Linked DNA regions of Homo sapiens: region 2 is linked to region 1. Evidence: fine-mapped QTL for protein levels in blood plasma. A gene starts in region 1. The other region holds a variant in brackets. All regions are shown on one strand. Distances are from middle to middle.

Region 1 (10,826 bases):
CTATAGCACTTTGCACATTGTAGGCTCTCAATAGATAGCTTAGGCGTGAAATAAGAAGCAGCTAATACACATATACACCATGGAACACGATGCAGCCATAAAAACGGATGAGTTCATGTCCTTTGCAGGGACATGGATGAAGCTGGAAACCATCATTCTCAGCAAACTAGCACAGGAACAGAAAACCAAACACCTCATGTTCTCACTCATAAGTGGGAGGTGAACAATGAGAACCCATGGACACAGGGAGGGGACCATCACACACCAGGGCCTGTCGGGGGGTGGGGGGCTAGGGGAGGGAGAAATACCTAATGTAGGTGACGGGTTGATGGATGCGGCGAACCACCATGGCACGTGTATACCTATGTAACAAACCTGCACATTCTGCACATGTATCCCAGAACTTAAAGTATAATAATAAAAAAAAAAGCAGCAGCTAATAGACCACACCAGCCATGAGAGGAACCCCTGCCTCCTAAACTCCTCGAGTGCCAAGCACCAGGCCAGGGCTCTTGTGTGTATCCCTCCAGTCAATGAACACACAATTGCCCCCTGAAAACCGCCCCTTTGCTATGCAAATATTGACACGGGAGGTAACGGGTAGATCATAACTATTTATAAGAACCATCTGTGTTTCTAAACAGTCATTTACTTAATATTTTTTAAATTAAGCTAGAATTTCTAAAGAGTATAACAATAAACTTGTTACCTGTTTTGAAACTAATGCGGAGTTTGTATTTACTGGAATTGTGAGCTTTATGCACTTGTTTACTAAAAAGGATATTTTGCATTTTGACATTTTCTTACTTCATCAAAAGCTTTAATGATTTTAAAAAGCAGAAAAGTTACTGATGTGCCTGGAAAAATCCTGAGAAACTAGAGTTAGGAACATTCTCTAGACATGGAAAAGAAGAGATGAAATACACCAAGGGACTGAAATGAAATACAGTGGGGTAAAAGATAGAGGATATTGAGGAACGAAATGAATGACTGGAAAGAAAAAGAAGAAAGGAATGCCACAGGAGTGAGCAAATACAGGTACTGGGTGTGATCAATACTCTGTAGTCATTGGAAAACAGCATCTTGGGAAATTTGTTACAGAACTGAGAACTGCAAGAAGATATTGGCCACCACCACCATGAAGCCCAGCACATCGTTATAATAACTATTAAGATCTGTTAGAACTTCCTGCTACTCCAGTTAATCACGGACTCTTCAGAACAAACCCAGGGCAACACTGCTATGCTATTGACTGAATGTTTGTGTCCTCCTTAAATTCAGATGTTGAAATCCTAACCCCTAATGTAATGGTATTTGGAAGTGAGGACTTTGGGAGGTGATCAGGTCATGAGGACAGAGCTCTCATGATTGGAGTTATGCCTTATAAAAGAGATCCCACCGCGCTTGTTCACCCTTCCACCATGTGAGGACATAGCGAGAAGATGGCTGTCCATGAACCAGGGGGCACTCACCAGACACTGAATCTGCTGGTGCCTTGATGTTGGACTTTTCAGCCTCCAGAACTGTGAGAAATAAACATTTGTCGTTAATAAGCCACCCAGTCTATGGTATTCTGTTATAGCAGCCTGAACAGACAAGACAGACATTGGTACTGAGGATCAAGATGAAAGTACCTGCTCAAGTTCACACAGGTGACAAGCAGCAGAAGTGAGTTTCAAGCCAAGGATGCCTGATGCCACGACCAAGGCCATCTCTTCAGCACTCAGCACTCAGCAGTGGGTGGGCTTTCTGATGAAAGCCCTGGGGAAGGAGAACAGGACTCACAAGGGATGGAGGCTGTAATTTGCAGTGTCTGGCTCTAAATCATGGCGGTCACAGCAAATGTCCTGTACTTGTATTTAGCAAGCACTGTCATTAGAGTTGCCTTCCATAAAGCAAGGATATGAGAGTGTGTCAGTGTGTGCTGGCATGTTATGTGGGGCTTTTAGCTTTAAAAGTAGCACTTGAGCCAGGCGTGGTGGCTCACGCCTGTAATTCCAGCATGTTGGGAGGTCGAGACCAGTGGATCACGAGGTCAGGAGTTTGAGACCAGCCTCGCCAAAGAGACCAGCCTGGCCAATATGGTGAAACCCCATCTGTACTAAAAATACAAAAATTAGCTGGGCATGGTGGCAGGCACTGTAATTCCAGCTACTTGGGAGGCTGAGGTCGGAGAATTGCTTGAACCCGGGAGGCAGAGGTTGCAGTGAGTCAAGATCGTGCCACTGCACTCCAGCCTGGGCAACAGAGGGAGACTCTGACTCTAAATAAATAAATAAATAAATAAATAGCACTTGAGCCCTGGAGGTCAAGGTTGCAGTGAGCTGTGATTGCATCACTGGTTTGTAGCCTGGGCAACAAAGTGAGACCCTGTCTCAAAAAAAAAAAAAAAAAAAAAAAGAACTCTCTATAGTTTGTGTATTAGTCAGGGTTCTCTAGAGGGGACAGAACTAATAGGATATATACACAAACACACACACACACACACACACATATATATATATACATATATATATGAGTTTTTTAAGTATTAACACACATGATCACAAGGTCGCACAATAGGCCACCTGCAAGCTGAGGAGCTAGGAGAGCCAGTCTGAGTCCCAAAACTGAAGAACTTGAAGTCTGATGTTCAAAGGCAGGAAGCATCCAACACAGGAGAAAGATGTAGGCTGGGAGGCTAGGCCAGTCTATTCTTTTCACGTTTTTCTGCCTGCTTTATATTCTAGCTGTGCTGGCAGCTGATTAGATGGTGTCCACCCAGATTAAGGGTGGGTCTGCCTTCCCCAACCCAGTGACTCAAATATTAATCTCCTTCGTCAACAGGCTCACAGACACACCCAGAATCAATACTTTGCATCTTTCGATCCAATCAAGTTGACACTCAGTTTTAACCATCACAGTTTGTAACTTGAGCAATGACACATGAACTAGCAAAATGTCCTATATCCACTGTTACTTCTTTGTGCCCAATCACTGAATGCCAGTACGTCTCCAAGGACTCACGCCAGCCTGTCCTTAACAGGTCAAAGAATTAAAACAATATCCTAGGGCAAAGTTTCATGAGACACCAGGGATCCTACAGGCTGGGACTTCATTTGGGAAGCCAACTGGTGAGCCAATCTTCTCTTGCTGCCCTCACCTCACAGCTCAGTCCTTCTGGGAGTCGGAACTACCCAAACTCAGCAAACAGTCTAGTATAGAACCTTGAGCAAACGGTTCCTGTTCCAGCCTAACACCGCCTGCTGCTGCCACCTCTGCCATCCATGCAGCCTCCCTAGCCTCCAGTCTCTCTCTGCCCATGCCAACTGTCCCTTCCTGGACTGCTCAGGTCCTAGCAGTCAGATTTCTGCTCAATTTCTAGTTCTGGACACTATGTCCCGTTACTGTTTACGGCTCTGTGTCTCCCAGACGATGGAGAAAGAAATGTGACTTAGTCAAAATGGAACAAAAATGAAAACCAACCAATCAGCTAACCAACTAAAACAAACATAATTTTAAAACCATACACTTTTCATACATACATTCAGCTAGTCTAATGCCAAGGGGAAACCTTATAGGAAAAAACCTCTCCTGCTTCTCTTTATTCCTATAAAGATTCTTCAGAGCACTTATAAAAGCACCTGGCACATTAGACATTTATTTGTAGTTTATTGACTTCCCCCACCCTCTACAGATTGTTAAGTTCTAAGAGAGCAGGGACTTTTGTCTCCCTCACCTGTAACAGCATCCAGTCCAAGGTGAGGACGTCATACGTTTATTAGGATTGGAATGGCACCAGCTGCACTCCTTTCCACGTTTATTTTCAAGGTCACCCCAAGGTTTTCTTTAACCTCATTAAATTCATGCCCTAAAGTGAGAGGAGGTATCCCCTTGTGCCAGACCCAGGCTGACTCTGTATTGTTACACATTATTCTCATCCTCCGATCCTTACATTAGGTGACCATCACACATTTTCACTCCGTTCCACATTAGTTCCCATAGTTGCACTTTCCCATGCTAGTTTCCCATTAGTTGACCAAGCATTTAGTTGGGCTCTGAGCTCTTAAAAACCAAAGGAGAATCTAATTTTGAATAAAAACACCTGGCCATACTGAACAAACGCAGGGAAGAGGTGGTGGTCATTATTTTCCTGTCCCCCCAGCTGTGTGGCTGGACGAAGCTTCCTGTGAATCCTAATCACTTTACCTCCTGTGGCATGATTCAAAAAAAAAAAAAAAAAAAGCAGCTAGAGTACAAAGCCTAAACAGAGTGGCTCTGTTGCTCTGCCTCCAGGTCTTTTTCTTTTGAAAGTGCAATCTAGTAATAACCAAACGCAGTCTGCAAATGCAAATCCAATTGCTTAACTAATTGTGTTCTCACCCCTGGAGTAATGGAAGTTCATGCTGTAGAAGAAAATCTGAACTTAGCATGGCCCAGGGTTCTGGGTTCTGGGTTCTAAAGGCAGGCCTGCGTAGAGAATCAACTCTAAGGAAGCTCGCTCAAAGGACGGAGGTGGACAGAAGAGAGATATGCATGGTTGATCAAGTGGGAGCAGAAGACAAACGCCACCACCGGGTGCAGTGGCTCACGACTGTAATCCCAGCACTTTGGGAGGCTGAGGCAGACGGATCACTTAGGATAAGGAGTTTGAGACCAGCCTGGCCAACGTGGCAAAACCCTGTCTCTACTAAAAATAAAAAATAAAAAATAAAAAAAAACTTAGCCAGGCATGGTGGCAGGTGCCCGTAATCCCAGCTACTGCGGAGGCTGAGGCAGGAGAATCACTTGAACCTGGGAGGCGGAGGCTGCAGTGAGCCGAGATTGGGCCACTGCACTCCAGCCTGGGTGACAGAACAAGACCCAGTCTCTCTCTCTATATACAAATATATTCTATGAAAGTGGGTCTCCTCTATAACATTCATGAAGTAATGTTGATTTTGACTGACGTATATAAAAATAAAACTCCTAAGTTTAGCAGTATTTACTGGAGATATACTACCCAATTCATTACTAAAAATGTGAAAAAGATTTTAGTTATGTTCAAGATCCCTTCGGTGTGGCTTATTGTGAAAGTGCACATGTTTATCTCTTTTTTTTTTTTTTTTTTTTTGAGTCGGAGTCTTGCCCAGGCTGGAGTGCAGTGGCTCGATCTCGGCCCACTGCAACCTCCGCCTTCCGGGTTCAAGTGATTCTCCTGCCTCAGCCTCCTGAGTAGCTGGGACTACAGGCGCGTGCCACCATGCCCAGCTAATTTTTGTATTTTTAGTAGAGACGGGGTTTCACCATGTTGGCCAGGATGGTTTCGATCTCTTCACCTCGTGACCCGCCCGCCGCAGCCTCCCAAAGTGCTGGGATTACAGGCGTGAGCCACAGCGCCCGGCCATGTTTATCTCTGTTTATGTACTTTTTCATTTGTTTTTCACAGTCTTGCTCTTTTTAAAACAACAACAACAACAAAAAACTTCTAGAAATGAGGTCTCACTATGTTGCCCAGGCTGGTGTTGAACACCTGGGCTTAAGCAATCCTTCCACCTTAGCCCTCCACCATTACTTCTAAAAAATAAAACCAGGGTTATGAAATTGTTCTGGTGGGAAAAGCTTGAAGTCTCTAGTCTTCTTGCTTTCATGGTGCTGGGTGCCCAGGATGACTATTTGCATAGGATTTGCCAGATGAGCATGTGGAAAGGCCTGTCTTCACAGGTGTGCCCCTAACTTTGCACCTTCCTATCAAGGGATGCATTGTTGAACGGCTGCAGAGAGAGCTGTACCCAGCCTTCACATTTAAAAGAATATGGAAAACTCATTACTTATGACATTGCCTGAGTTCAAATCCTGGCTTTTCCACATACTAGTGTGTGCTCTTAGCCAAGTTATTTCTTCCATTGTTTATTAAAATATAACTGCTGTTTTTAAATGAAGTCATATATACACATGGTCAAAAACTCTGACAACAGGATCTGGCGAATCTTTCTCAGAAATTTTCTAGGAATGTGTCACATATTTCCTTTTTTTTTTTTTTTTTACATAAATGTACCATACATAATGTTCTTTTTATCTTTCTTAACACCTCTTAGAATATTATCATTTTCTTACGGGCTTCCTAGTATTTTTGTTTGAATGGATGTATCTTATTTACTGAAACAGTCCTGTTAACAAACACATAGGTTGCTTTCTGGTTGGAGTTATTACAGAACAATCTTTGATGAACATCTTTGAACACTTGTACAAGTGTTTGACAGGATAAATTCCCAGGAGGGCTGCTGGGTCCAAGGCTACGGTCATTTTCGATTTGAATAAGTATTACCAAATGGGCAAGTTATTTAAGTGATCCCTGAGTCGCTCTTCTTTGTAAACAGTGGACAATAATGAGTTTCTCAAATGTTTCTTATAAGGATTAAATGAGATGGGGATGTGGAAGCCTAGTATACAGCAAGCAGGCCGTCAATGAATGTTGGCCTCCCAATATTTTTTTTTACGGAGAAAGACAACTATTTATGCATATTATGATGACTATAGCTTAACCATGAGCTCAACAAACACAAAAATTCACAGAAAATTCTGCAATACCGTATCTATTTTAAACCCCATTATTGAATATAACTAGTGAAATCTCAGGTCAAATAGAATGTATTTAAGAAGACACAAACTTGACATTAAACACCAGAGATTTACATTTGATAGTTGTCTCTTCTTACAAATATATCCCTCATAATAATAAAAAAGCACTCCACTAGTATGCCAATTAAGACACATCTTCCAGTCGTGTTTTGTCCTTGAGTGAAAAATCTTGCTGCTCAATTCAAGTCATTCGTTTATTCATAACACCCATATATATATCTCCAACTCTGGAAAGAAACACTGACAGAAAGATGGAAAATTTTAGAGACCTCGTTTCCACTTCAGAGAGCCTGTTGTCCCCCAAACCTCTCGGGCCCTCCGGTATTTTTAAGCTTATCAAGATTCCAGAATGAGGTTAACGGGGCGTCACAGAACGAAACCCCCCACCGTCCCGTCCCAGGGGCTTCAAGCCAGGACCCCGGCCTGAGGGAGCCTCCGGGCAGGAGGAAGAGGCCCAGGAAGCCATCGCTCCGCTCCTTCCCAGCTGTTTATGTGGTACTCAGGGTACTCGGCCAAGGGCACGGCGACCCCGCAACACCCCAGGCGTGGGGCAAAGACAGCGGGGTTGCGGGGCTCCTGTCTGCCCGGGGCGTCGAGAGTTCCTGCCGCCCCCTCCCGCCTCATGCACGGAAAGCGCCGAGCCACGGCGTGCGGCGCCGGCCGAGCGTGAACCGGAGTCGGGGTTCGGCTACCCCGAGCGGCTCTGTGGGCCGCGGATCGCTTCCCCTGGGGCGGCCACGCAGGGTTGCGGGCCATGGCCTGGGGCGCCCGTCCGGACCCCGCCGCTGCGCGGGACGCCGCTCCCAGCCTCGACCAAGGGCGCCCGGGGGCGGCGGCGGCGGCGGCGGCGGTGACTGCCCGGGGCGGCGGCGCGGCGCGGGGGCGGCCAGGAGGCGAGGAGGCCGGGCCGCGGCCGAGGGCCCAGGGCGCGCTTCCGGCGGGCGTCGCGCGCGCCGCGGTAAATGGGAGGCTCGGCCGACAGGGGCGGGGGCCGCGCAGCCGGGGACTTTCAGGAACTGCAGGAGCGTGCGGCGCGGGAGTAGCCGAGCGCCCAGCGGCTGGGCCTGAGCGTCGAGACTCGGGGCCGAGGCGGAGGAGCGGCCGCCGCGCCGGGGCCCAGCCGGAGCCGCCGCCCTCGCCCTTGCCTTTGCCTGCGCGGCTCAGAATCACCATCCGCGGCGCGGGAGACGAGCCGGCCGTCCCGGGCCGGGGGACCCGCCCGCCATGGCCACCAAGGTGAGGGGCGCGCGGCGCAGGCCGGGCCGGTCGCTCAGGCCCGGGGCGGCGCGGAGAGGGTCGGGGCCGGGGCCGCGGGGAGGGTCGGGGCCAGGGGTGGTCGAGGGGCCACTCCGCTTCCTCGGTGGAGTCCCCGGGCGGGTCCGCGGCCCAGCCAGTCCCTTCTGGGCATGGGTGCGGCGGGCAGTGCAGACAGACCACCAGGATCGCACCGGGGGACGGCGTCGGGTCTGGGCGCGGGTTGGGACCCCGGGCGCAGCGAGGTTTGGGAAGTTTGCACCTGAGCGTGGGCTGCGGCGGGCTCGCCGGGAGGGGCCGCGGGACGGAAACTTCCCGCAGCCCGGGGAGGCCCCCGAGGCGACTGGCGCTCTGTGGCGTCCGGCGTCCCCGCCGCCCCCACGTCCCCTCCCGCTGCCGCCTGGGGGACCCTCGCCCCCGCGGGGCGGGTGGGGGTCGAGACCTCGGCGGAGAGGACGCGGCGCTTCCCGTCCCGGCCTGCGGGGGCTCGCGGCCGGGGAGGGACCGAGGCTGGGACGCCCCGCGCCCCTTTGCCTTCGCTGCTGTTATTTTTTTCTTTTGTTTTGCTACCTTTTCATTGTGAATGGCATTGCCGGCATGAATAAAATATCAAGAGGGAAATGACTGTGCTTTCGATTACGTGTTTGCCTGAAAAAAGGCCCAGGCCCGAATTACGTGGTGGAACTTTGACTCCTGCTTCGTCATTGGCTAGGAGCGGTGGTTTGCTTGTTTTACGTTATTGTTTATGAAATTAGCAGTCACTCTTGGCTACCTGAATTTTCAAAAGCCACCCTCCCCCGCTCCTTTTCCTTGGGCGTTTTCAGTAGTTACTTGATGTAGAATAGCCACTGGGGAAGTCACGGTCACGGAAGGGAGGACCTGGGGGAGGAGGCTCTATACCTGAGCCATTAACTGATCTGTGATACACTGTGAGGAGTGGGTTTACTTTTGCACTTAGTTTTTGTAATGTCACTTTGTTAGCATCAGCACCCCTTTGTCTATTTGTTTTTGAGATCTCTGAGCTACTTTTGGGTTGCTAGAAACGTTATTTTTTATTTTTCGATAGGTGTTTGCTTTTTTTGTGGAGTGTTAAGGTAGAAAATGGTAAGAAATGTGAAATCTCTTTGAAAGATCAGCATTGCTTGACTTCGGTCTGCTAGATGTTGTGCTGTGGTAAATTTTGTGCTCTGAATCCATCTAGGTGCAGCGTTTGTAGAGAAATGGGGATTCTCCTCCAGGGAACCTGTTGCTGCTGTTACTGAAATAATTACCTTCTTGTTAATATATTATTGCCTGTGCTGTGCTTTGGTTTTATTAATGCGATAGAACTTGCCACCTTTTTAACGTATTAATTTTGTGTTGACCTTTTTAAAAATAAAACTTAGGCCAAGGATTTCTAAGGAAATTTGATTTTGAGGTTTGTTGCCAGACATTCCAGAAATTACCAGTTACACATCCTAGTACATGCTCATCTTGCAACCTTAAAAGCGGTTTATAGGCCGGGCGCGGTGGCTCACTCCCACCTGTAATTCCAGCACTTTGGGAGGCCGCGGTGGGTGGTTCACCTGAGGTCGGGAGCTCGAGACAAGCCTGGCCAATATGGTGAAACCCTGTCTCTACTAAAAATACAGAAATTAGCTGGGCGTGGTGGCGCGCGCCTGTAGCCCCAGCTGCTCTGGAGGCTGAGGCAGGAGAATCGCTTGAACCCGGGAGGCGGAGGTTGCAGTGATCCGAGATCGCGCCACTGCACTCCAGCCTGGGCGACAGAGCGAGACTCCGTTTGAAAAAAGAAAAGACGAGACTCCGTTTGAAAAAAGAGAAGACGGTTTATGACATAGAGATCTGTCTAGTGGTGGTCAGTGTGTTTTTACACTCTGGTCTACTGAGGCATGTTATCTGTACTGTCCTTTAAGTGGAATGCAGTTTAGCAACTAGTGCAGGTATATATAGTGAAATTTTTATTTCATAGTTAATCCTGAACTTAATTTTTTTCCAAAAAATCGAAAAGTGGTTCTTGTATATTAATCTCGAATTGCATGTGTCTTTGATTAAACACGAGCCTTAAAGCATGCGTAAGGACTTCCTACTTCGTTATCTACACCACTCCAAAGGCAAATTCCAGTAGTTCTGTTAGTTTCTTTCGGCTGCCTAATCACTGTTCCACATGGTGCTCATTTCCATGTTTACATTGTGACAAACCATTTCCATTTTAAGAAAAAGAAGAGCAACGAAGCAGTTATTAAAAGAAGACCCTTCCTTTGTTTTCTGACATGCTGGTGATTCTTGTGTCAAACCAAAGTCTCATTTTTTAATTGTTCCCAGAGAGTCAAGTTGGTGCTTTCCTCCCTTCCCCCATATGCACACTCCTTCCCCACACCTGAGTAGTTGTGTTTTTTCTTTGTCTTCTTCAAGGGGTGGGGAGAATGTGCTTAGTAGTAATGACTAACTTTTAATAAAAATGTAGGCTCCAGTGGCACTCAGGCTGTTGCTATAAGTATTAACTGATGAAAAGTAAATTCAGTATCTGGATATTTTAAGGGATGTCGATTTCCCTTTGAATTTATCAGAGACTTGGCTATAGTATCTTCAGATACAATTTTCTTGTTTGTTCTTACGTATTAAGGATGTGGTTATCACTGAACTATTGGGATTTTTAAAAACTCCACTACTATATTTTACAATAAAAAAGGAAATTATCTTTTAGAAGAAGAACTTTAGTTTGACAGTCCTTCACTGCTAAAGAAAGTTAATCAGGGTCGGGCGCCGTCTCACGCCTGTAATCCTAGCACTTTGGGAGGCCGAGGCGGGCGGATCACGAGGTCGGGAGATCGAGACCATCCTGGCTAACACGGTGAAACTCCATCTATACTAAAAATACAAAAAAAATTAGCTGGGCGTGGTGGCGGGCGCCTGTAGTCCCAGCTACTCGGGAGGCTGAGGCAGGAGAATAGCGTGAACCCGGGAGGCAGAAC
Region 2 (10,891 bases), 150 kb before region 1:
CTGCAATGACAGCAAAAGCTCCAGCACTCCAGACAGTGGGATTTTTATGCTGCCAGCAGAAAGGTCTTTTCATAGACACTCTTACAAGAAATCAAAATTCTATTCTATTAGTATCCAGCATTCGGCCAATTTTTGACCTTAAAAATTGGTAATGTCATATGATTCAACCTAATATTTGATACATATGAACTTTTAAAAGGTTGTTTTGGAATAAAAACATGAGTATCTCAGTTTTCTGTTCAGAGTAGATGGACTATCACTGTCAGATATCTAAGTGGTCAGCTGTTTTTCCTTAGGATTATATAACTGGTTAGATCAATTCAAACATAACCAACGGCTTCTTGGTGTTAGCCGGGATGTATGCACAGCCACCAAATTGTAAGAGAGAAAAAGCGAGCGGTGATGTCTCCCTCTACTGGTGGAAGGTAAAAGGGTCCTCAAATGAAAAGCCAGGAAGGCTGGGTAGCGGAGGGAAAAGGGTTCAAAGTAAAAAAGAGAGAGGTAGAAAGGAAGAAACAAAGAAGAAAAAGAGAAGACGGAAAAAGGAGAAGTGGGAGAGAAATCAATGGGGAAGAAGGATAGAGGGGAAGAGAGTTGGTGAGTCCAGAGAGCAAGAAAGTTAAGTAGAAAAGTCAACAAGAAATGGGCAAATAAGAATTAGAAGCAAAGGTTTAAAAAAAAAAAAAGGGAAGTGTAAGAATATTTGTCATGGCCATCTCCACAGTAACCCTGAAAATACTGGCCATTTTCCCCCATGACTTTCTCAAATGAGAATCACAGCCATGAAGGTTTATGAACCCATCGCCCTTGGAATTCTGGCAGAGTGGAAAATTAGGAAAAGCTCTTTTAAAAAAATCAGGTATCCCTGAGTCATTTGATATCTAAGTTTTTTCTAAGAAGCATATGTTCAAAACAGGCGACGTTTTGAGAGCGTTTAATGAGAATTGTAAATTCCAGTCAGTAGAGTCATTGCACTACCCTTGGTTGGAATCTGACAAAACTCTGCTCTGTCCACGCCAGTGCTCTCTTCTGAGCCAACAGGAGATTTAGATGGGTGACACCCTGCAGAACAGAGCCTGGTCCCCGTGTGCCCCAACTGAGATTTGCCTTCTAAATGGAAATCAGTTTGAATGTGGCAAAGTGTTTTCAAAGCTGTGAACTACACGCAGGACTTAGATACTTAGGTGCCTGATGCCAGTGCCCCTGCCCCCTGCTGTCATCCCAGCAGGAAAGCTGGGGAGGGCACAGAGAGTAGGTTCATTATTACTACAAAAGCAGTCCCTCTATCAGGGGAAACACCCATAGCTAGACTTAGATAGACAGTCATCTTTTAAGATGTTTAAACAAATCTGTGTAGAAGAGGTGCTTATCATCAGATAAGTCAGGGTTCCAAAGAGTCATTTGGAAAACATTTCTGAGTGACTTCTATATAGATTTTTTAAATTAAATGGCTTACGGGCTAGGCACGGTGGCTCAGACCTGTAATCCCAGCACTTTGGGAGGCCGAGGAAGGCAGATCACTTGAGGTCAGGAGTTTGAGACCAGCCTGGCCAACACAGTAAAACCCCCATCTCCACTAAAAAAAAAAAAAAAAAAAATACAAAAATTAGCCAGGCATGGTGGTGCGTGCCTGTAGTCCCAGCTACTCAGGAGGCTGAGGTAGGAGAATTGTTTGAACCCAGGAGGCAGAGGCTGCAGTGAGCCAAGATCGTGCCACTGCACTCCAGCCTGGGTGACAGAGTGAGACTCCATCTCAAAAAAAACAAAACAAAACAAAAATTAAATGGCTTAGGCTAAACTTCTTCTTTCACAAATATTATTTCACACCTTCTTCAAGTCCTTAAGCTTCACCCTTGACAAACTCAAGAGCATTTCCAACAAGGTCCTGGCCAGTGAGGCCCACACAGTGTTTGCTACAGTTCTTAACAAGTCGTAGGTACAGCATGGCAAAGCACCAGTAGGTATGTGCTGGAGTGGGCCAGGTTTGGAGTGGTCTGAACCATGCCATGGGAGACCTCCTTTAAGAAAAAACAAACAATATGCAGAGAACGAGGCCTTGGAAAGAGGCTGTGTAAGTAAAGGAGCCTGAAGCATCATTAGCTTCCCAGTAAAGCCACCTCTAGGGCTGTTATCTTTAAGTTAGCAAAGGGATGTTTGCAAATGGAAGTCTCCGAAGGTGCACCCAACTCTGCATCAACCCCAACAGGGAACACAGTCTCTCAGGAGCTTAACCGACCACTGCCGACAGCCACCTTATCCGAGAAGGTTCTCGTGGGTGTGCAGGAGCTCTTTGCAGGCTTAGGTGGCAGAGAGGTGATCAGGGGAGAGGAAAAGGGCCAGCAGCTGATGGAGTAGTGCAAAGTAGAAGAATGCACAAGAGAGGGGTGGTGGGGGGGGAAGACAGAGAGTGGAGGAGAGCCCACCTCTCCCCAGAGAGGAAAGTTGAAAGAAACAGAGGGTTGAGGCGAGCCCACCTCTTCCCACAGGGAAGGTGAAAGAGACAGAGAGGGTTGGAAGGAGAGGAGCCCGCCTCTGCCCTCAGGCTCCTACTGTGTGACCTTGACTGTCTCCTCCAGCTCCACCCTCGAACATATTTTTCTGTGAGTCTGTGAGAGTCAGTCAGAAGTACTTGGGCTGAACCCTAAAACAGAATTTGCCAATTAGTCTTCAGTAGAGAAGGCTTTCTTCAGGTCAACAGAGACAAGCAAATCTAATTTGCCATTTCCTTGTTCCTTAGAGCCAGGGGGTATTGTGTGGACAGAAAGCATTAGGATGAGTGAGGGCTCCAGAGGGGAAGCTTGAAAACAAGATGCCTTGGTCCAGCAAGGGCGCTGGCTTGCCAGCTGAGCTCTCTGAAGCGGCAGCTCCGCCCTGGGCTCATTCCCAGGCCCGGCCTGCTGGAGGCTGTGCGGAGTTACAGGAAATGGGAGTGCCGCTGCGGCTCAGCTGCCTCTGTCAGTAAGAATACGAAACGGTGATGTTCATAAAACATTCTTTGCAAAGCACAGTCCGTCCAAACCCTGGTATAGTTTCCAGAAGACGAATGTTTAATCAATGAGGCTGCTCTGCCTCTGCCTCTGCCCTGTCAAGACTGAGCCCATGTCCTGAGCAGAGCTGACAGCATGGGAGAGCGCCCGCAGCCTACACAGGCCACAGCTGTCTGCAGCCTGCTCAGTAGCCCCCACCGGAAGGGACCTGCACCCTGAGCTGAAATTCCCTGCAAGAGCAGAGAAAGCTACTCTGTTGCCCACCTGACAGCTTGGAGAAGCACCGCCGTGGCACAAATGATTGTGGTGATGAGTGGAAAGGATTGTTAACGCTTCACAGTCAGCCCCTTCCAAGTACTTTTTATTTATTTATTTATTTAGAGACAAGGTCTTGCTCTGTCGCCCAGGCTGGAGTACAGTGGCGTGATCTCAGCTCACTGGAACCTCTGCCTTCTGGGCTCAAATGATTCTCCTACCTCAGCCTCCTGAGAAGCTGGGATTACATTTGTGTGCCACCATGCCCAGCTAATTTTTGTATTTTTTGTAGAGATGAGGTTTTGCCATGTTGCCCAAGCTGGTCTCGAACTCCTGAGCTCAGGTGATCCTGCCTGCCTTAGCCCCCCAAAGTGCTGGGATTATAGGCATGAGCCACTGTGCCCGGCCGCCTTCCAAGTAGTTTCTAATGGCCTTTCCTTTCCTCCAAATAACCCTACTCCCCTCCCCTCCCCCGCACTTTGGCACCTTTCTTTCCCAAGCCTTCCCCAGCTTCTCAGTGTTTTGCAATTGCACTGTCCAGGCTAAAGCCACAGAAAAGCAAGGATCTTCGTGAGACTTGCTTGCCCTCTTCATAGCTCCACTATGAACTTTACTCTTGCCTAGGACCTAATCTTTGAGCATCTAAAGCCTGCAGATTCTTGAAGACTGCAGCCCCTCAACCTTCTCTTCTAGGCTGGAGGGTGGCTCAGGGTGGCCTACTACTTGTGATTTTAGAAAGAAACCCATGAGGCTGGGAAGGAAGTGTGCACTGCATGAAATAAGTGCCTTAGGATCAGCAGCTTTGGGTGAACTTCCTCCCTCCCCTCAAGGCTGCGTTGTGCATGTTGGCTCTGCACCGCTCTGTGGCTGCAGGGGTATGAGCAATGGCAGCTCTGTGCGAGTCTCTTATCAGGAAGAGGTCGGAGCACCTAAATCACAAAGCCATTGGTGAGTGGTTCTTCAGTAACTCTAGCCTTCTGATAAAGAGGAGGAGATAATAAGCCAAATAACATTTATTAAGCATCTGCTGTGTCCAATGTGGAATAGTGGAAAGAGGTCTACCCCAGCTCCAAATCCTAGATCCATCCCTTACTTTCATCTGTAAGGTCTTGATCGAGCTGTCCAACCCATCTGTGCCCCAGGGTCTTCATTTGTGAAGAGGGGAACAGGCTCATTCTAAGAACTCCTGCAGAAGTGAAGTGGAGCAGCCACTTTATAGCTTGAGCACAGAGTCCCGATTTGCTCACCTAATATCCATGTCTGTTCCTCCTTCCCATCAAAACACTGCTCCTGAATCTCACTGAGAAGGTACCGCACAGGCTCAAGTTGAAGATTTATAAGTCCTGTTAAGTCTCTTCTAGCTGTTCTGAAACTTGCCCATAGTTCAAGGAGAGGGTTTGCGGAGCTATCAGGGGTGCCTGTCGCATAG[C/G]CTGGAAATGTGCTTACACTATCTTCTTTGCCCAGTGAGCGAAGGGAAACAGAGGACACGAGGCAGATATCATGTGACTTAAGAACGCGTGGAAGAATAGGAAACGTCTTCTCAAACGTGGGCATTCTCAGACCACAGAGGCTTCGGGAATGGCTCTTGAAGCTGTTGGAAATTTAGCAGTGGGGAATTCTAGGCTTTTACCAAACAGTCTTTTCTTTTTTTGGTGGTAAAATAGACATGGCATAATATTTGCCACTTTAACCATTTGTAAGTATAAGTTCAGTAGTATTAAGTCCGTTGATGTTGTTCTGCAACCACCACTACCACCCATCTCCAGGGCTTCTTCATCTTCCATGGCTGGAACTCTGCATGCCTTAAACACCAGCTCCCTCTTCCTCCCGCCCCAGCAGCCACCATTCTTCCTTCTCTCTAAGAACATGACCCTCCAGGGACCTTGTTTGAGTGGAATCACACAGTTATTCGTCTTTTTGTGACTGGCTTGTTTCACTTAGCATGCTTTCCTCAAGGTCCACCCATCTCGTGGATGTGTCCGAATGCACTTCCTTTTTAAGGCTGAATCAGTAACACTGTGTGTCTACACCGCACCTTGTCCCTGCTGTCATCCATCAGTGGACACTTGAGTCACTTTTGACTTTTGACTTACTATCAATAACATTGCTATGAACATGGGTGTACAACTCCTGTATTTTTAAAACAATGTGGTTTAAAAAATGGTTTTCAGCATACAAGAAACAGCCACCCACTGCTGTAGATGGCCTGTGACTCTGTCCAAGAGATTTTTTTAATTATGTCCTTTAAATTGGGAACCAAGACCACTGGCTTCATAACCAGTGGCTGCATGTTATGACTGGGCACCCGTGGTGACTTCATTTGAGCAGAGGCAATTGCAGCACCAGGCGCTGGGTGTCTCTCCCAATGCACCTGGACCACTGTAGGCGCTCCCTGCCTGGCTGACTGAGGTGTCACTAACGGTTTCTCTCTTCTCGCACCCCACCCTCCCCGCCCGTGCCCTGTCCCCATCCCTGTCCCTCCCCACCTCTGCCCCCTCCTCTCCACCTTCTCTTTGCTGGCGCCTCCCGCTCTCCAGTGCGACCAAGACCAGTGCATTCAGAGCACCAAATTCGTTTTGCAGGCTGCAGCCACGCCCCTGCTGCAGAGCGAGCCCAGCCTCACCAGCGACGAGCTGCACCTGCCCGGGAAGCCTGGCCTGGGCACGCCCTGCGCCAGCCTCACACTGGGCCCGCCCACACCGCCCGCCTCCATGCCCAACCTCGCCGAGGCCACGCTCGCGGACGTGATGCCCCGGAAAGATGAGCACATGGGCCACCAGTTCCTGACGCCCGATGAGGCGCCCTCGCCCCCCAGGCTACTGGCGGCGGGCAGCCCCCTGGCGCACAGCCGCACCATGCACGTGCTGGGCCTGGCCAGCCAGGACTCCCTGCATGAGGACTCTGTGCGCGGCCTGGTGAAGCTCAGCTCCGTGTGACCCACATGGCCCCAGGCCGGGGGACACCAGAGGCTCCTCCATGGGCAGCAGGAGTGAGCGGAGGGGTGTGTCCCACAGCGACTTTCCCAGCCAATGCCACGGTGGAGATGACAGCCCCAGGTCTGGGGTACAGAGACCACTTAGGATGGCACAGGGTGGCTGGCCCCGGATGCTGAGAGCTTGGTTTCATTTGAATTTTCTTCCCCAACCTGAGTGCTTTGACAACAATGGAAATAGAGAAGTGGCTGCTTTCTTTTGGTGACCCTCCAGGGGTGGAATCGGAGTGTGTCTGCCCGCCCTTGTGACAGACACACGGAAGGCTTCTGACGCTTGTGGCCAGACTGCAATTGCACTTATGTGTTATGCTACTAATATTTGAAACAGACCTGCCATTCCATTTGTTAATTAAAAAAAAAAAAAATCCTAAAGGGAAAAAACCGACCAGGTGTGGATCTGCATGCCACGCTGCCGTCTGTGTTACAGTGGTGTTGCTATTTCCAAGGAAGTGCTGCTTTCTTTTTCTTTTTTTAATTTTGTGAATTTTCAAGTGCTGTTTTGTTGGAAGACAGTGCAACGAACTGAGACTAATGGACAGTGTCATCACTCAGCTTACTGGGCTGAGGCGTCTGTGGAGAGGTGGCACCGGGGCTGCAGAGGGCGGCTGGGGTTCCGTCGTGTCGGGTGTCACTTCACCTTCTGTTTGGCCGCTCGATGAGGTCTCGTGTTGAGATATTGTGTGCCACAACCCCCACAGTCTTCACCTCCGTGTGTGATGAAACTTCCCGTGGACAGCCAATAAAATGACGTCCTCTGTTATTTTGGATCTGCGTACGGTTATCCTTAATAGCATAAATGAAAACAAAGTCATCCAGATGGGGAGAGTTTTTCTTGAAATGTCCCTAGCGAGGAATGGTCCCCAGACAACCAAAAGTCAAATCTTTGAACTGGGAGATATTTATAGAATAATTTCTTAGATAAGAGGCAAGTTTTCCATCATTTATTTTCTTTAATTATCTCTTTTTGACACCATCTTAGTGGAATTTGCTCTACGTTTGCAGTTTGCCGTGCAACAGTTGATCGGAAGTAGGGAGAGGGGAGGGGACGCTCAGGGAGAAGGTTCTGTCGGGCGTCTTCTGGGCTTCCTTCTGTGTTAACGTGTCACTCAATCCCAGAAGTGCAACTTGAGGTCCTAGTAAAGGTATCAGAAAATGAGGAGGAGAAATCGGCTTACAGTCTAAGCTGAGATCATGTAGGTCATCATCCTTCCTAGACACTGATCAGAATGAAATTAAGAAAATGACCACTTTGTTCACTTTCATTGGTCACCTAGAAGGGAACGAACTGGCTCTGGACTTAGGGAGTGTGTCACTATGGGGGCAGCCACAGGGGACACAGCAACTCCTCTCCTGGCTTCTTTCCAGACCATAAATCTAACAGCTAAAGCTACTCAAGTTCAAAGCCATGGCCTTGCTCCTTATAACCATATGAAAGACAAGACACATTGACCAATGATACAAGTAACCCAAGTGATTTGCATTTATGGAAAAAGGCTATTACTCCTGAGAAAGAGTTGCCATTTTATATAAAAGAAAAGAAGATAGGAAAAAGAAAAGCACACAAGTTTTATTTGGAATGAAGGCAATTCACAGGTCACAAAATAATTCATGCTGAAAGGGCCTGCAGAGTTCTTGCACTGTGATGTCTTCGAGCCATCTTTATTGTCATGCTGCATGCACGTATAGAAAATGGAATAGGTCCATTCTATGTAGCCATTTTTGATTTTCTGAACCACCTAACTACTTGTACCCACCTGCAATGTGTAATTCATGGGGCAGTGCCCTCCTTACACAACCGCACACGCTCACAGGCACCAACTCACAGGGATTCTCCTTGTCCACGCTACCTGTGAGCCCAAAGTGACAGCCCCACAAAGGAGCTTCCACAACTTCCCAAACCGTCTCTGCTCCTTGCTTTCTTCCACCTGCTCCCCAGAGGCCCCAGGAAGGAGTTGGCCCTGATGAGAACGGTGCTCCATGGGTGACCGCGAATCCGGCTTAGCCCTCACTCCGGTCCCACGTGTGGCCCAGTCCATTCTCAGCTCATTCCCCTGGAAAGCAAGATCATGGTCTTCAGAGGCCTCCCGCTTCTAACATTTCCTAACTCAGTGGTTGCCACTCTCCTGTGACCAGCCCTTCTTCCCACCTCACTGTGAAAAATTCCCAGAAGCCAGGATCACGACTCACTTGTCTTCACATAATGGATATTTACTTAATATTTATTATCAATTTCCCCACCTCCAACCCTGTCCCTGGCACACACTTGGCATCATTTATCCAATAGGGGACTGGGAATTTTGGTGAAGTGAATCAAGGCTATTCAGGGTCAAGAGAGAGATTAACTTGAATGGGCCAATTTGCTAGATAATTAATGTCTTAAAAACCAAAACCAGAGAGAAGCCCACAGCCCTGTCCTCTGTGGCTTGAAAAAGAAACCCAGCATCAGAGGAATGAGCGATGATGCCCCCTGGGGCGCCCACTTCTGTTTGTCAGGAGGGATGGTCGGAGGGGCAGCTCACCTGGCGAGGTGATGGCTCTGCATTTCCCACGAACATATATGTGACATGTACATAAATATAAATACTTATGTTTATAAATGTTGAATGGTTCCTTCTAGCTGTGGCTGAGTAGACGTTGGTGTTTCTAACTTCTTTCAGTGTGTTAGAGATTGATTACATGCTAGCTATAAAAAGTAAAATAAATATTTTACCATGCTATTAAAGCTTGGACCATTATCAAACACACACAAACACACACTCATTCTGCTGTTTAAAAATTCATCTGCGTTCGTTCTCCCAGGAGTGCTCCAGGGAACCACAGGCTTCCCGGCACTTGAAGGCTGAACTGAGCGTGAGTGCCCTGGTCCCCAGGAAGCAGGCGGATGCTGCAGGAAGGTGGCAGACAGCCTGCATCCAGGAGGGCCCCAGGAAGTGGGGATGCTGCAGGAAGGCGGCACAAAGCCTGCATCCGGGAGGGCCCCAGGAAGCAGGGGGATGCTGCAGGAAGGTGGCAGACAGACTGCATCCAGGAGGGCACAGTGACCTGTCACTCCGTTCTGCAGAAATTGGCCCAGCAGTTGCGTTATGCCCAACCAAAAGATGCTCGTTCCAGCTTTCAAATGTGATGATTTCAGCCTGTGAGGACAATGCCATGTCCCCACCCTAAGCCAGCAAAATGCGAAATCTCTGTTCTGGCCCAGAATGGCACAAGGGAGGAGTCTTTGCAGAGTTCCACGCCACCCCCCAGCTTACTGCGGCCTTCACCGGCTCTGTCTAGGATTGCCAGCTGTGGTTCCAAGTGAGGAGCAAACCCATTTTATGAGCCATGTTCCTGCGGAGACCTGATGGGCCAGGCCTTCTGTGGCTTTGAAAACCCCTAAGCTCTTCACCTCCTGGGCCTAGGCCTTCTTGTCTGACTCAACAGCAAGAAAAATGAACTTGCCAAAATTGGCAGTAGGTGTCCTTGACACAGGGGCTTCTGATGGCATCGCCCAGAAAATGCTGGAACCAGAACTGGTCAGAGACTTTGAAGGGCACAGCCTGGCGGGCTACTCCCCAAGGGTCTCAGGTCTCTGCCCACCTGACTACCCTGCAGCAAACGCTTCTCTGTAACCTGACTTCTCCCTTCAGACCTCAGCCTACAACCATCCTCTTCATGCCAGGAACCAACTGCTTCTCAGCCTCGGCTTAGGGTCTTAAGTTCACCAGAAGGGATCGGGGTTTGCGTTGATATTATAAGGAATCTTCCCAGAAGGAGCTGCCCTTCATCCATCCACAAGAATACATTGAGTTCATTTAGTTCTTGACCAGGTAAGAAAAGAATAAAGGAGAACAAATATTAAATACTCTTTTCTAATTGATGCCTTACTACTGTTTTGAAGCTGAGCCGAAATCAAATTGATGTTTACATTTTCTATCAAGTACACATGAGCTGTGGGAGTCTAGCATATTCTTGTCCAAAAGAGAGAGACTTTCAAATGAATTCCTATTCCTCTTGGTCCCCTCCACCTATTTTGGAGGTCTGCATGTGGAGTTGTATGCTATTTTCCAAGGTACCTCATTTAAAAAAAAAAAAAAAAAAAAACTGCCTCTCATTTGTTCCCTTAAAACGTCTCTCTCTCTCATAAAACTAAGTTATCATTGAAATATTAAACGATCTGAAGCGTCTTTTTTTTTTTCAAATAAATGTCAAAGATGGTAATAGTTTGTAAATCAGTAAATCCTCTGTCCATCTGCCCATTGTCCATGGTCCTGATAATAGAGCCAAGATGGATTTTCACATGTAAGGTGTTAGTCCATTAATCCAGCCATTAAAAGTAGTTGGGAGATTGAAGATTAGATGGTTTCTGGAGCAACCGAATTTGCAGCTGCCACAAAACTAGATAAATAGCCACAACTGGAGTTATTTTTTGATCTCATAAACCCCAGGAATTACACACAGAATGGATTGAAAAGCAGACAAGCATCTTGTGCTATTGCAGAGACTTTTCTACCCAGGAAGTGTTGAATTTTTAAAAGAAACTTGATATTGGTGATAAAGGTATGAATGAACAACTCTCTTACTTGCCCTCGATGTTTCAAGATGCCTGGTGAAACCGAGAGGCCACATGGCATGTCCAAGGAGACATGCTTTCTGGGTTCTATATGAATAGAGATGG

Alleles and levels. Positions count from the first base shown, and alleles are read on the strand shown. Strength reflects both the effect of a copy and how common the allele is.
With allele G in place of C in region 2, the plasma level of the protein whose gene starts at base 7,636 in region 1 is lower (weak association).

What was found. A credible set is the group of variants that fine-mapping cannot tell apart. PIP is the chance, under the fine-mapping model, that this variant and not a neighbour inherited with it causes the effect. The UK Biobank Pharma Proteomics Project read protein levels with antibody pairs (Olink). The fine-mapping took linkage between variants from a reference panel, not from the people measured, so its PIPs are less certain.
Region 2: its variant is the best candidate, but not a certain one, in a credible set for the plasma level of the SNX9 protein (UK Biobank, PIP 0.62).

The regions. Positions count from the first base shown.
Region 1 is chr6:157,815,611-157,826,436 of GRCh38, forward strand. It overlaps SNX9 (sorting nexin 9), which reads left to right and starts at 7,636. Exons shown (of 18, transcript NM_016224.5): 1 at 7,636-7,836. The coding sequence starts at 7,825. RefSeq lists a silencer at 7,445-7,764 and an enhancer at 8,415-8,464.
Region 2 is chr6:157,666,945-157,677,835 of GRCh38, forward strand. It overlaps ZDHHC14 (zDHHC palmitoyltransferase 14), which reads left to right. Exons shown (of 9, transcript NM_024630.3): 9 at 5,780-10,891. The coding sequence ends at 6,178. Among named protein-coding and RNA genes, the nearest start is that of MIR3692, 140 kb to the left of the region's middle. RefSeq lists enhancers at 2,423-3,030, 3,031-3,636. The variant C/G (reference allele first, on the strand shown) is at 4,672.